Linked DNA regions of Homo sapiens. The protein of the gene in region 2 interacts with the protein of the main gene of each other region in a pairwise test. Each region holds a gene or a part of one and is shown on either strand. Other genes may lie near its edges.

Region 1 (3,600 bases), on a different chromosome or scaffold from region 2:
ACAGTATCAGGCAAACCTGAAGGACTGATCACATGGCATCACTGTTAAAAGTGATGAAGTTTAATAGCATAAAACAAAAACCCCTCCTTTGCTTGTCTCAAAGCATACTATATGTACCATCTACAGAACCCTAGTTACCTCACACCAAGACAGATATGCCAAAGATTCCACAGCCTCAATAGCATGTGTAGGATATCTGCTAATAATTACCTCCTCCTTGCCATCCGTCAGCCACTATGACAAACTCTGGGTTTTTCCCGACATGAGATTAGGCACATGAGTATAGAATAATTATATCACTATAATTAACTGTAACAAATCAAAGACTTTTTTTTTTAAGTTCCGGAGTATGTGTGTAGGATGTGCAGGTTTGTTCCATCAGTAAACGTGTGCCATGGTGGTTTGCTGCACTGATCAACCCAACAACTAGGTCTTAAGCCAGCCTGCATTAGCTACTTTTATCAAATGTTATGGGCTGAATTGTGTCCCCCCCAAAAATTCATATGTTGAAGTCTTAATCCCCAGGACTTCAGAATAGGATCTTTACAGAGGTAATTAAGTTAAAGTAGGTCATTAGGCAGGACCCAAATACAATATGACTGGTGTCCTTATAAGAAAAGGAAAAAAATGACACAGACAGGTACAGAGGGAAAAACCATGTGGCAATACAGGGAAAAGTCATTTAATATTCAAAATGGTCCCGTATGTTAATATTATCCCCATATTATAGATGGAGAAACTGAAGTTTTGGGGATGTTAAATGAGATCTCAGATCATCCTATGAGCAAGCACCAGGATGCAGGATTCAGATGGGAATCTCGTGACTCCAAATCCCATCCACTTGTTACTTTCAGTGGATAAGGGACTGAAGGACTTTGGTCCCAACTCTGCCCTAAACTAGTTGTGAGACCTTCAAAAAGTTATGAATTTTTTGCCATCTTCATTTATTCATCTGTAAAATGAAAGACTGGAATTGAATATTACAAGGGTCTATCTAAGGGCCTGCTAGTTTTAAGAATTTTGCTCAAATCATCGTTTTCAAACTCCTGAAGAAATTACTTCTATAAATTCATTAGAATTGAAAGGAAATTCAGTATTTGGAGAATCACGATTTTGCCCACAGAATTCAAGGATTTATTGGAAAAATATACATACTTGCAAATGTTTTTGAAATATTATGACCTTAACTCATTTTAAAAAGTCATTTATATAGGGCTTGCATCCCATTCATTAACTTTCTGTTGTTAACATTTTCTTCATTCTGAGCTTTTAAAGACTGCACACAACTTCATGAACAAAATACAGGATTAAAATTTTCTGACAGAAAATTTAAATTCCAGTTTTAAAATCTTCAGGGAGTAATTAAATGGTCTTGAGGGGAAAAAAAACTTGGTTGCAGACCTTAGTTTTTAGGTCTGAGAAAATGGAGTAAATGGCTTCCTGCTTGCGTGGCAGGAAAGTTTGCCTTTAAATAAGAGATTATCTGTGAAATACCTTTGAACTCTGTGGAGGGAAGTTGCTGCATACATTCAATGGCAAGGCATTTATTACAAGCTCACGATATTAGGCTGTTTTTTTTTTTTTTTTTTGCCAATACTTCCTCAGTTTTGAAAAATTACGTGGGTTACTTGATTTGTATTTTTTTTCATACCTGTAGAAGTTAGGGTGCATTGTTTTGACAGGAGCAGGGAAGTATTGTAGAAAATAATTTTTATCATAATGGAGTATGGCAGGTTATATGACTGCGAGGATCAGAATTGTGAATCATCTCTTGTGTGTCTTCAAGTAAATAAAGGCAATCTGCCCACGGAGCAGAAAAAAAATCTACAAACTACAAACTCTGTCCAATCATGTAAAGACAAATCAGCCTTCAGGCAAATCAAATGTCTTCATTCAAAGTCTACCTGGATTTGGCACTCTGCCCATCGTTTCAAAACCTCTTAACAATACGTTTCACAAATAGTTAAAAACATGCATACTGAAAAGCATACTTTTGCAATGTTATTTTTAAAAACAAGGAACTCTTTAACCCAGGGAAGATAATCACTTGGGGAAAGGAAGGTTCGTTTCTGAGTTAGCAACAAGTAAATGCAGCACTAGTGGGTGGGATTGAGGTATGCCCTGGTGCATAAATAGAGACTCAGCTGTGCTGGCACACTCAGAAGCTTGGACCGCATCCTAGCCGCCGACTCACACAAGGCAGGTGGGTGAGGAAATCCAGGTAAGGCTCCTGACAGCAGCTTTAGAAGGGTACTTGCTGGAGTGAATTCGGGCCTCTGATTGCTATATAAAGTTGTAGGCAATCAAGCAACAGAGAACTGCAAGTTTCCAAAGGCAATGAAGTAGGATACGGAAGGGAAATCATGGAATTTCCACAAAAGTCTTACTGGGGCCTTTCTTTGGCTAGAGCTGGCACAGTGTGACGTTCCCGAGTTAGTTCAGAGAAATGCTTTCTCTTTTGCGAAACAAAATTTCCAAGAGTAGGTGAATCCTAGGATTTTTCAAGCCTGGGACAGGGTCCAGGGATTTTCGTCTCAGTCACCATCTAAAGCTTTCTTTCCCACGGGCTAAAGCAAAGCCCCATAGGCTTCTCCACTATGACACCTCAGCTCGGATTGCCCGCTTGGAATATATTATTGCAAATCAGAAAACAGTTTTCTTTCTCTTTTTGCTGCAAAGACATTCTTGTTGCCTCTGCAATCTTTAAATTCATGGGATAGGCTATTAGAGGAGAGAGCTGGTTGCTTTCCTGAAGCATCTACAAATAGGGACACTAAAATGTCTTGCAAGTTCATTATTTGCTAAAGACAAGAAGACAGGGATACGGTGATGAGTAAAAAGTGCTGGCTTCACATAATGTGTGTGTGTGTGTGTGTGTGTGTGTGTGTACCTATGTCTGTGTGTGTCTCCAAATTATCAATATTTTCCATGGAATTGTGTTTTGAGGTGGTTTATGCAGGAAATTTGCAGAGCAGAATCTATTCACATTACGAAAACTCAGTGGAGTGAATCTCAGAAAGTCACCCCACAGCAGGATGTTTGTACAGCAGGAGTTATGTTAGCCTTCCTTGAGTCATCCTGCCGTAAAACACAAGCAATATATCAATAGTTCCAACCTGTGATCTTTGGAGATACTGCAAGGTCCTAATAGCTACTTGGAAAACAAGAACTGTAAATGGGCTAAGTAAATAAAAATGCCTTACCATCAATTTACTATTTTTTAGAATATATATAGATGCTGTTATAAATAAAAGATAAAATCAAATGTTTGTTGATAGATTCAAAGAAATTATTTGCCATATGTTTCTGAACCAGCCAGTATTCCAAATGTATAATTATTCTCATGTAAAAGTTCTTGATTTTTTTAACATTACAAAGAAGTCTTTATACAAAGAGGGCTGAGAATTGTTGACTTACAGTGAACACTTAGGTTGTTTTTGCAAAACTCTAGAAGACAAAAGTTATTGGCATTTCCACATCTTTGTAGGTATAGAAAATGAACAAAGTATATCCCTGATTTTTGCTTACATCTTTTCTGAGTAAGACATTTTGTGCTTACATACTATGGATTAGTTAATCATTGGTCAGTTAAATACAAAA
Region 2 (3,829 bases):
GAGACCTTGAGTGAGTTAAGGCAGGGAAGAAGCAGATTTGCTATCCACTGAATGAAAATAAGAAGAATTCCATTGTCCAAGGTCAGAGCAAGAACACAAAGGTTTTAGTTTACTTAGTTAATTCCTTAGGTTTGGACATTACAGGAGACATGGGGGTGACCATAGCAATTTAGCTGATAAATGTATCAGAAACTCTTTCATCATTTTCTGTCCCCTCCTATCTTAGGCTGACCGGTTCCCTGATGTGTTACCTGCTTCTGCTACTGATCCAAACTGCAGAACTTCTCATTCATCCCCAAGGCCTCCAGGCAGTATCCAATGGGGAATCAGCTCTAAAAGGAACCAGACCAACGTTTTCCAGCCCCTTCATTCTGGTGACTGAGGGGAGGAAAGAATGGGAGGGGGTATTCTTGTCTAGTGGATGGAAAGGAAACACACTGTCAAATTACTATATCTCCTTGGTTTTCTATTACAGTAGAATTCTCCAGCCATATTTTTATTGTCTATGGGGGAAGTTGGAGATGGTGACCTTGATTAGAAGTGTCTGGAGGGGGATAAATGGAGGGGATAAGATTCAGTTGGTTTTGGAAAATGTTAAAGTCTTAAAATAATGCGTCCATCTGAAGAATTTTTTCTAAAACCAGAGTTTATAAAAATATCACTGATACAGCCTGCCCCCTCATTTCCCTGCCACAGGAGATGTCTTGGACTAGAGACACTTGTTTAATAATAGCTTGTCTCTGATATTCCCAGTAGCTTCCCTCTGTGTGAGGAAAGGATAGAAATGTTCAGGACATCATCATACAGGCTCCTCATCTACAAAGTTCCAGTAGCAGTGACGCCTACACGGAAGACTTGGAACTGCAAACAGGCTGGGGTCACCTCAGTGACATCTGACGCTGTCCAACCAGAAGTTCGATTTTTGTTCTGGGGGTGAAGGAGGAAACAGACTGTACTAAAGGACTAAAATAATTTGTCTATACTATCTCACTTGTTTTTATTTTTGGCGGGAGAGGAGGGGTGTTGGGATAGAATTTCACATCCTATCTTGGAGTGAAGGGGAGGATGGGGAGGCTCAGCCCTTCACCCAAGAATAACCCAGTAATGACATCTCTACGCGTGGGAAGTGTTTCCCTCCACACTGAGAGGATCTGAGGCTGCACCCCAGTGGGATTCCCTGCTTGAGTTGGAAGGCCATCTCGCCATGAGATGCATATCATAGCGAGAGCGCAGAGGGCTTAGCCGGCCGGGGAGGAAATGCCAAAAGGAAGAGAGGCTCGAAGTCGAAAGGGCTTCCCCCAGTTTGGAGGTGGGGACCATGCTGTGCATGAGCGACTGAAGAGCCGAGTGTCCGCCGTGGCCTGTGCCCTCCGCTGAGGGTCTAACAGGGACGCGACGGTGCTGGACACCGTGTCTGAGTCACGGGAGACGGCCCAGCTGTGCCCAGCGGGCCAGCGCCAGACCCTGGCGTCCTCCATCTTCTCTCCTGAGCTCCCCCTGCTCCAGCTGCCTGAGCCACGGACCGCAGCACCACACACCCCCGCGGGGGGGGACGCCGCGCCCCATCCCCGCCCCGGGCCCCACCCCAGCCCCCCCGCGGGGGCCCTGACCCCACCGCCAGCGGGCACTGGCTGAGCTCCGAGGCGGCGAGCCGGCAGCGGGGACGCCCAGAGGGGGTCCGGGCGACTGGGGGCGGCGGCGGCCGGGCCGGGGCTCCCCCCCCGCCCGCGCTCGCCGCCGCGGTGGTGCGTCCCGGAGGTTACCGGAAGTGGCCGCGCTCGGCGCTGCCATGTTGAGGAGCCGCCGCTGCCGTTGCCGCCGCCGCCGCCGCCGCTTTGTTGTCGCCTCCTCCGGCTGAGGAGGCTCCCCGAGCGGGGGGAGTGGGGAGGAGGGGGGTCGGCCGCCGCAGCCATGGAGGCCAACTGGACCGCGTTCCTGTTCCAGGTACTGGGGGCCCCCCCGGGGGGGCACGGGGGGGACAGGGGGGCCGGGCCCCGGGCTGGCGGGCGGGCGGGCGCTCCTCCTCCCCTCCCTCCCGGCTCCGCTCTCCGGCCCGGCCTTAATCCCCCTTTGTTTTTCCGCCCGCCCGCCCCGGCGAAGCGGGGCTGCTGAGGTGAAAGGAGGCGGCCTCACGGGGTGCGGGGGAGATAGCAGGCCGCGGGGTGAACCCGGGGGCCCCCCAGCACACACACGCACACACACACACTCACACACACCCTTCCCTCTCGCTCTGAAGGGGAAGGGAGGAGGCCGGTCGCTGTCACCACCCCGCGGCCCAGAGAAAGGAGGGCGCCGGGCCGCTGGATAGCGCGGGCTGCTGGGCCATTGCGTGCCGGCCCGGTCCCCCACGGTGGGGTGAGGAGGTCCCCAGGTCCTGCCCTGAGTCTCCTCCCCGCCACTTCATCCATCTTTCGCTTGTTCTCTTTTCACCTTCCTCGTCTTTTTGTGTGTGTGCGTGCGTGTGTTGACTTTCTGACCCCCTCCCGTGTCCCCGCGAATAGCGGGTATCCCCAGGTTCCCCGCCACTCCCCCTCACCGCCACCACCCCTCTCGTGTTTACCCAGTTGGGGGGGCGGATGTTGTGAGTGTGTATCCCCTCCCCAAACTTTTTCACTGGATTTACATTTTTTTTTCCCAAGTCTCAGCCGAGCCTTGGCAGCTGACACCTTCTCCCTCTGTCCAGCTCTCCCGCCGTCCCATTCAGCCTGGGGAATCCCCCAGCCGGGCCGGCCCGGGGCAGGCGGGGAGCGGTGGGGGCCGGGACTCCTGGAGGCCCGACCTTCTCCCGAAGCGCTTTTCTTTCTCGCCCACCTCGAACGTTTCCTCCAACCAAGTGGAGAGAGCAAACAAAGTCCGCTTACAAAGCCCCCAGATGAGTCACTCTCTGGGATGTTGGTCTTCGCTTTTTTGCAAGAAACTTGAAAGTGACTGTAGCCGATGTGTTTTGGCAATTCTCTTGCCCGCCCACTTTAGATGGGGGACCCCTGTTTGGCAGATCTAGGCTGGAACTTATTTTTTTCCTACTTCGTTTCTGTTTGCAAAACGAAGCATTCAGTGGGCAGTAGCGATGAGCTCACGGGGAAACTTCGGAACTGGAGGAGGTTAGGAAGCTCGTCACTTTTAAGTGCGTTCTTCCCGCCTCTCTGAGTTATTTTCCTTTGAATACTTCGTGAAATCCCAAACGCGTAGCTGGGGCGCTTGATACCTTTTGAAACTAACAGGAACGGATGCAGAATTTTCAAAAAATTATTCTCCCAGCCACTGGATTCATCCTAGTGGAGTTAATATAGAGAATTGGATAACTCAGAAATTACCTACTGTGTAGACTGGCCTGTTGTTTTAAGACATATTTTTTCAAATGTGGGCAATTTGATCTTTAAGTAGTTATGGAAATATATTTGGGCTTCTTAAAATCTAAAATACCCAACATTATGGAATTCATGAACTTCCCCCTTTTCTCATTCTGATCAGTGTTGTTTTATTGTACTTTGATGAGCTTGCTAATAATGTGATAAACCAACTTGAAAATGCATTGGAAAAGAAATGATATATAACTAGCATGCATCCAGGTTGGTGTAAAGGTGGCAAATACTTTCCCCAGAAAAAAGCTCAAATGGTTATTTTAAAATATGGGATTGATGTGCCACTGAAGTGATTTTCGTGTGATTAAAAACCATATTAAGCATGGTGTCTATAGAGATTGAAAAAAAAAAGTGTTCTTCATGTAAAGGAAAAACCCATAACACATCTTTGGAAAGCTGGTTGAAAAATCTTTTGAAATACTTTTTTAAAGATTATTTTTCTCCTGGGTAAAACAAATGCCAAGCGT
Region 3 (3,829 bases), on a different chromosome or scaffold from region 2:
TCCCTCAGTTTGGAAGCACAGCTGGGGGCCAGGCAGATTTTCCTACTCCCAGTCTTGTACAGGTCTCTGCAGAGAGCATGAATCTCCTGGGGAGCTCTCACTCTCTCACCCTTTCCCATTTTTGTAGAGGTTCTTCTGCGCCACATTGATCCCAGACAGATAGCTTTGCTCCTCTCTGTTCTCTGTGTTCTCCTGCTGCCTTCATGGATCCCAGCATGGTTTCTCAGATGATTGGCCTGCAGGGTCAGTGTTGACTAGCCTTTTAGTTCCTCTCTGTGAGAGCAGCACATACAAGCTGCTTCTCGTCTGCCATCTTGGCCCTATCCCTCATCTTTATTTTCATTTCCTTTGGCCTAGGTAACTTTTTTTGGTACTTTTTCATTTTGCTTTGCTTTGCTTTGCTTTGTTTACTCTCAATCTTTGTATCTCCTTAGAAGTTTAGTGTGCCTCGTGTAAAAATCATATAGCTGAATTTGTTTCTTTTTAGCCAAACTGAAAAATCTTTGTCTTTTATGTCTTTTAGCTTCCACTTTAGTCTATTTGTGTTTGTTGGATTTGTTCATATGTTTGTATTTCTATCTAAAAACTTATTTTTAAAATTCATTTTCTATTTGTATCATTTATTCTAGTGCTTTTTTCCTCCTTTCCTATTTTCTTTTAGATATATTAGATGTTTATAATTGTAAGTTTTTCTTACCCATTTCTTTTTTTCTTATACTGGTTTGGAAGTCATATGCTCTATTACTATTCTTATAGTGCTCACTCTTAACATTTTACCATGCTGACTGAATTTAGTAAAGCCTAAATTGATCAAGGTTTTACTTCTCTTCTTAATAGCACATGAACTTTATTAATACTATATCATTATTGTTTTTTTTTATTTTTACAAGCATTTTTGTTTTATTTTTGCAAGCATTTTATTTATCTACACAAATATTTCTATATACTTACATGTTTACCAAATTGTTTGCTCACTATTTCTTCCCTTTCAGATCTTCTGTCCCTAAAATATATCCTTAGTAATTTCTGTAGGAGAGGACTGCTTTGTTTAGTTGGAACATTAATACTTGTTCTTGTTTCTTTTCTTCCTTTTTTTTTTTTTTGAGGTGGAGTCTTGCTGTGTTGCCTAGGCTGGAGTGCAGTGTCACAATCTTGGCTCACTGCAACCTCTGCCTCCTGGGTTCAGGCAATTCTCCTGCCTCAGCCTTCCAAGTAGCTGGGGCTACATGTGTCCACTACCCTATCCGGCTAATTTTTGTATTTTTAGTAGGGATATGGTTTCACCATGTTGGCCAGGCTGGTCTCGAACTCCTGACCTCAAGTAATCTGTCTGCCTTGGCCTCCGAAGGTTCTGGAATTACAGACATGGGCCTCTATGCCCAGCCTTGTTCTTGTTTTGAGAGAGATTTTTGATAATTCCAGAGTAACATTATTTTCTATTAGCTCTTTGAAGAAATTTCACCCCTGTGACTTATTTTCTCTGTGATGTTGTTTAAGTGTTTTAGAGATAATGTAGTCATCTTATGAGTCATAGTGAAGATCAAATATATATAAAGAGCTTATTAGTGTTTCTAACACATATTTATCACTATATAAATAAATAACCTTATTTTTCTTTTTTCCCTCCTTTTTTTCTTATAATTCTTATTATTGCCAATGCTGCTCAGCAATTCACTAAAATGCATCTAAGTAAAAATTTCTTTTTATTGACACCACTGTTTATCCTGTTTGGTATACATTTTTCTTTCCAAACATGTGGTTCTAGGTCTTAAATTTTCTAGTTTCTGTACATTCTCAACCCTTAATTCTTTGAATGTTACATCTATCTTTTATTTCCATTCTCTTCTGGAATTTTGATTAGGAAAATATACTTTTTTATTGTATCCTTTATAATTTTAACCACCTATACTGTGTTCAGTTCCTCATCTGTCTATAGTTGGGATAATTTTTTCAAATATGTACTTTATTTATTTTTATTTTTTATTTCCATAGGTTTTTGCGGAACAGGTGGTGTTTGGTTACATGAGTAAGTTCTTTAGTGGTGATTTCTGAGATTTTGGTGCACCCATCACCCAAGCAGTATGCACTTTACCCAATCTGTAGTCTTTTACCCCTCGCCCCACTTCCATTCCACCCTTTCCTCCAAGTCCCCAAAGTCCATTGTATCATTCTTATGCCTTTGCAGCCTCGTAGCTTAACTCCCACCTGTGAGTGAGAACATATCATGTTTTTCATTTTTTTTCCGGATTTATTTCCCAATTCATTTACTCTGAATTTTGCTGTTTCTCATATGCTATTTAACCCATCCATTGATTTCTTAATTTCAATAATTTTATTTTTAAAATTTCTAAATATATATTTTTTTCAGATTTGCAGATTCATGTTATAACCTTACGTCGTTTGATCTTTTTATTGTAGCTGTTATTTCCTTATATACTTTACTTATAGTTATATTTTGTACCCTTTAATTATAACAACTAGTGTCCTTCAGGGTATTTGTTAATTTTATTAGCTCATCCTCAGTCATGGCTTCTTATTTCCCATTATGTGTTTGAGAATAATTTTGTAAGCTCATACTTGGTTGAATTTTATTTGCAGAATTTTGAGTAGCTAATTTCTAATAACTTGGGCTGTATACCAACAGCGTGGATCTACATTATTAGTCAGCTCAGTCTGCCATAACAAAATAACAGAGACTGGGTAGCTCAAATAACAGAAATTAATTTCTCACACTCCTGGAGCCTAGAAGTCTAAGACCAGAGTGCCAGCCTGATCAGGTTCTGGTGAGGGCCCCCTTCTTGCCTTGTAAATGGCTGCCTTCTTGCTGTGTCCTCACAATGCAGGGAGCGAGTTAACTCCAGTCTCTTTCTCTGATTATAAAGGCACTAATCGTATTACAGGGTTCCCGTGCTCATGACCTTGTCTAAACCTAGTTATTTCTCAGAGGCCCTACCTCCGAATACTGCCACATTGGAATTAGGGCATCAATGTACGGATCTGGGAAAGGAGTGGCACAGTCAGTCAGTCCATAACATTCACTTGTGCTCTTTTTGAGAGCTTTGGTTCCTTCTATTTGTGTGGAGCCCAGGGAAACTCTGATCTTTTGCATCTCTTAAAACACACTTTTTTGATTTTAGTGTACCATTCTTTTTCTCTCTCTTGATTTCTCTCAGCCCTCAGAAATGGCCTTTATTTTTTCATGAACCAAAGTTATACAGTTTTCCATATTTCAGGCCATGTTTTTGAAAGGCAAAACCATTTCAAAAGAATGTTCAGAAATTTATATTTGATATATTTTGGATTTAGTATATGAGCTCTGACTCTATATATTAAAAACTTATGGGAATATTGTTTATATTTATTGTTGACTAAATATCAGTTACAGCACTCACAAAGAAATAATACTGCTTCATTCTAGTTGTAATTATTCCAGTGTGATTTGTTTTTTTTGCCTGGCACATGGTTTAAAACACAAAATAAGCATATAAAACTTATATGAGAGGGTTTTTCAGCCACAGGCAGAAACATACCACAATAATTTTTATCCTATGCTAAGATTTTGGTCCATAATAACATGATACCCATTGGAAAGATAGATTTGAGAAAGAAGCATGCTTAAATAATTTTTAAATTTTTTTACATGCATGTTTTTGGATAAGTGTATTGTTCAATCTTTAATATTAAAAACTAAAATTCTGAATGACAAACATATGTGCAAACCAACTATTGTGGCAAAAACAGTTTTTGTTGGTGAAGGGACTAGCTGCCATTTGGTGATTTTTCAGATAGTCAAATTTGAAAAATCAATTGGATCTTCTCTTCTCTTCTC

Evidence for each region.
Region 1: the proteins of VEZF1 (region 2) and AGR2 interact in binary tests that used the Homo sapiens proteins (3 or more experiments, as listed by UniProt).
Region 3: the proteins of VEZF1 (region 2) and SPAG16 interact in binary tests that used the Homo sapiens proteins (3 or more experiments, as listed by UniProt).

What each region holds. Positions count from the first base shown.
Region 1 is NC_000007.14:16,803,556-16,807,155, reverse strand, and holds the start of AGR2 (anterior gradient protein 2 homolog precursor), read left to right. Parts: upstream 1-2,156; 5' UTR 2,157-2,221; intron 2,222-3,600. UniProt on the Homo sapiens protein: Required for MUC2 post-transcriptional synthesis and secretion. May play a role in the production of mucus by intestinal cells. Proto-oncogene that may play a role in cell migration, cell differentiation and cell growth. Promotes cell adhesion.
Region 2 is NC_000017.11:57,986,194-57,990,022, reverse strand, and holds the start of VEZF1 (vascular endothelial zinc finger 1), read left to right. Parts: upstream 1-1,768; 5' UTR 1,769-1,911; coding exon 1,912-1,944; intron 1,945-2,072; exon of another isoform or gene 2,073-3,829. UniProt on the Homo sapiens protein: Possible transcription factor. Specifically binds to the CT/GC-rich region of the interleukin-3 promoter and mediates tax transactivation of IL-3.
Region 3 is NC_000002.12:213,924,267-213,928,095, forward strand, and holds part of SPAG16 (sperm-associated antigen 16 protein), read left to right. Parts: intron 1-3,829. UniProt on the Homo sapiens protein: Necessary for sperm flagellar function. Plays a role in motile ciliogenesis. May help to recruit STK36 to the cilium or apical surface of the cell to initiate subsequent steps of construction of the central pair apparatus of motile cilia.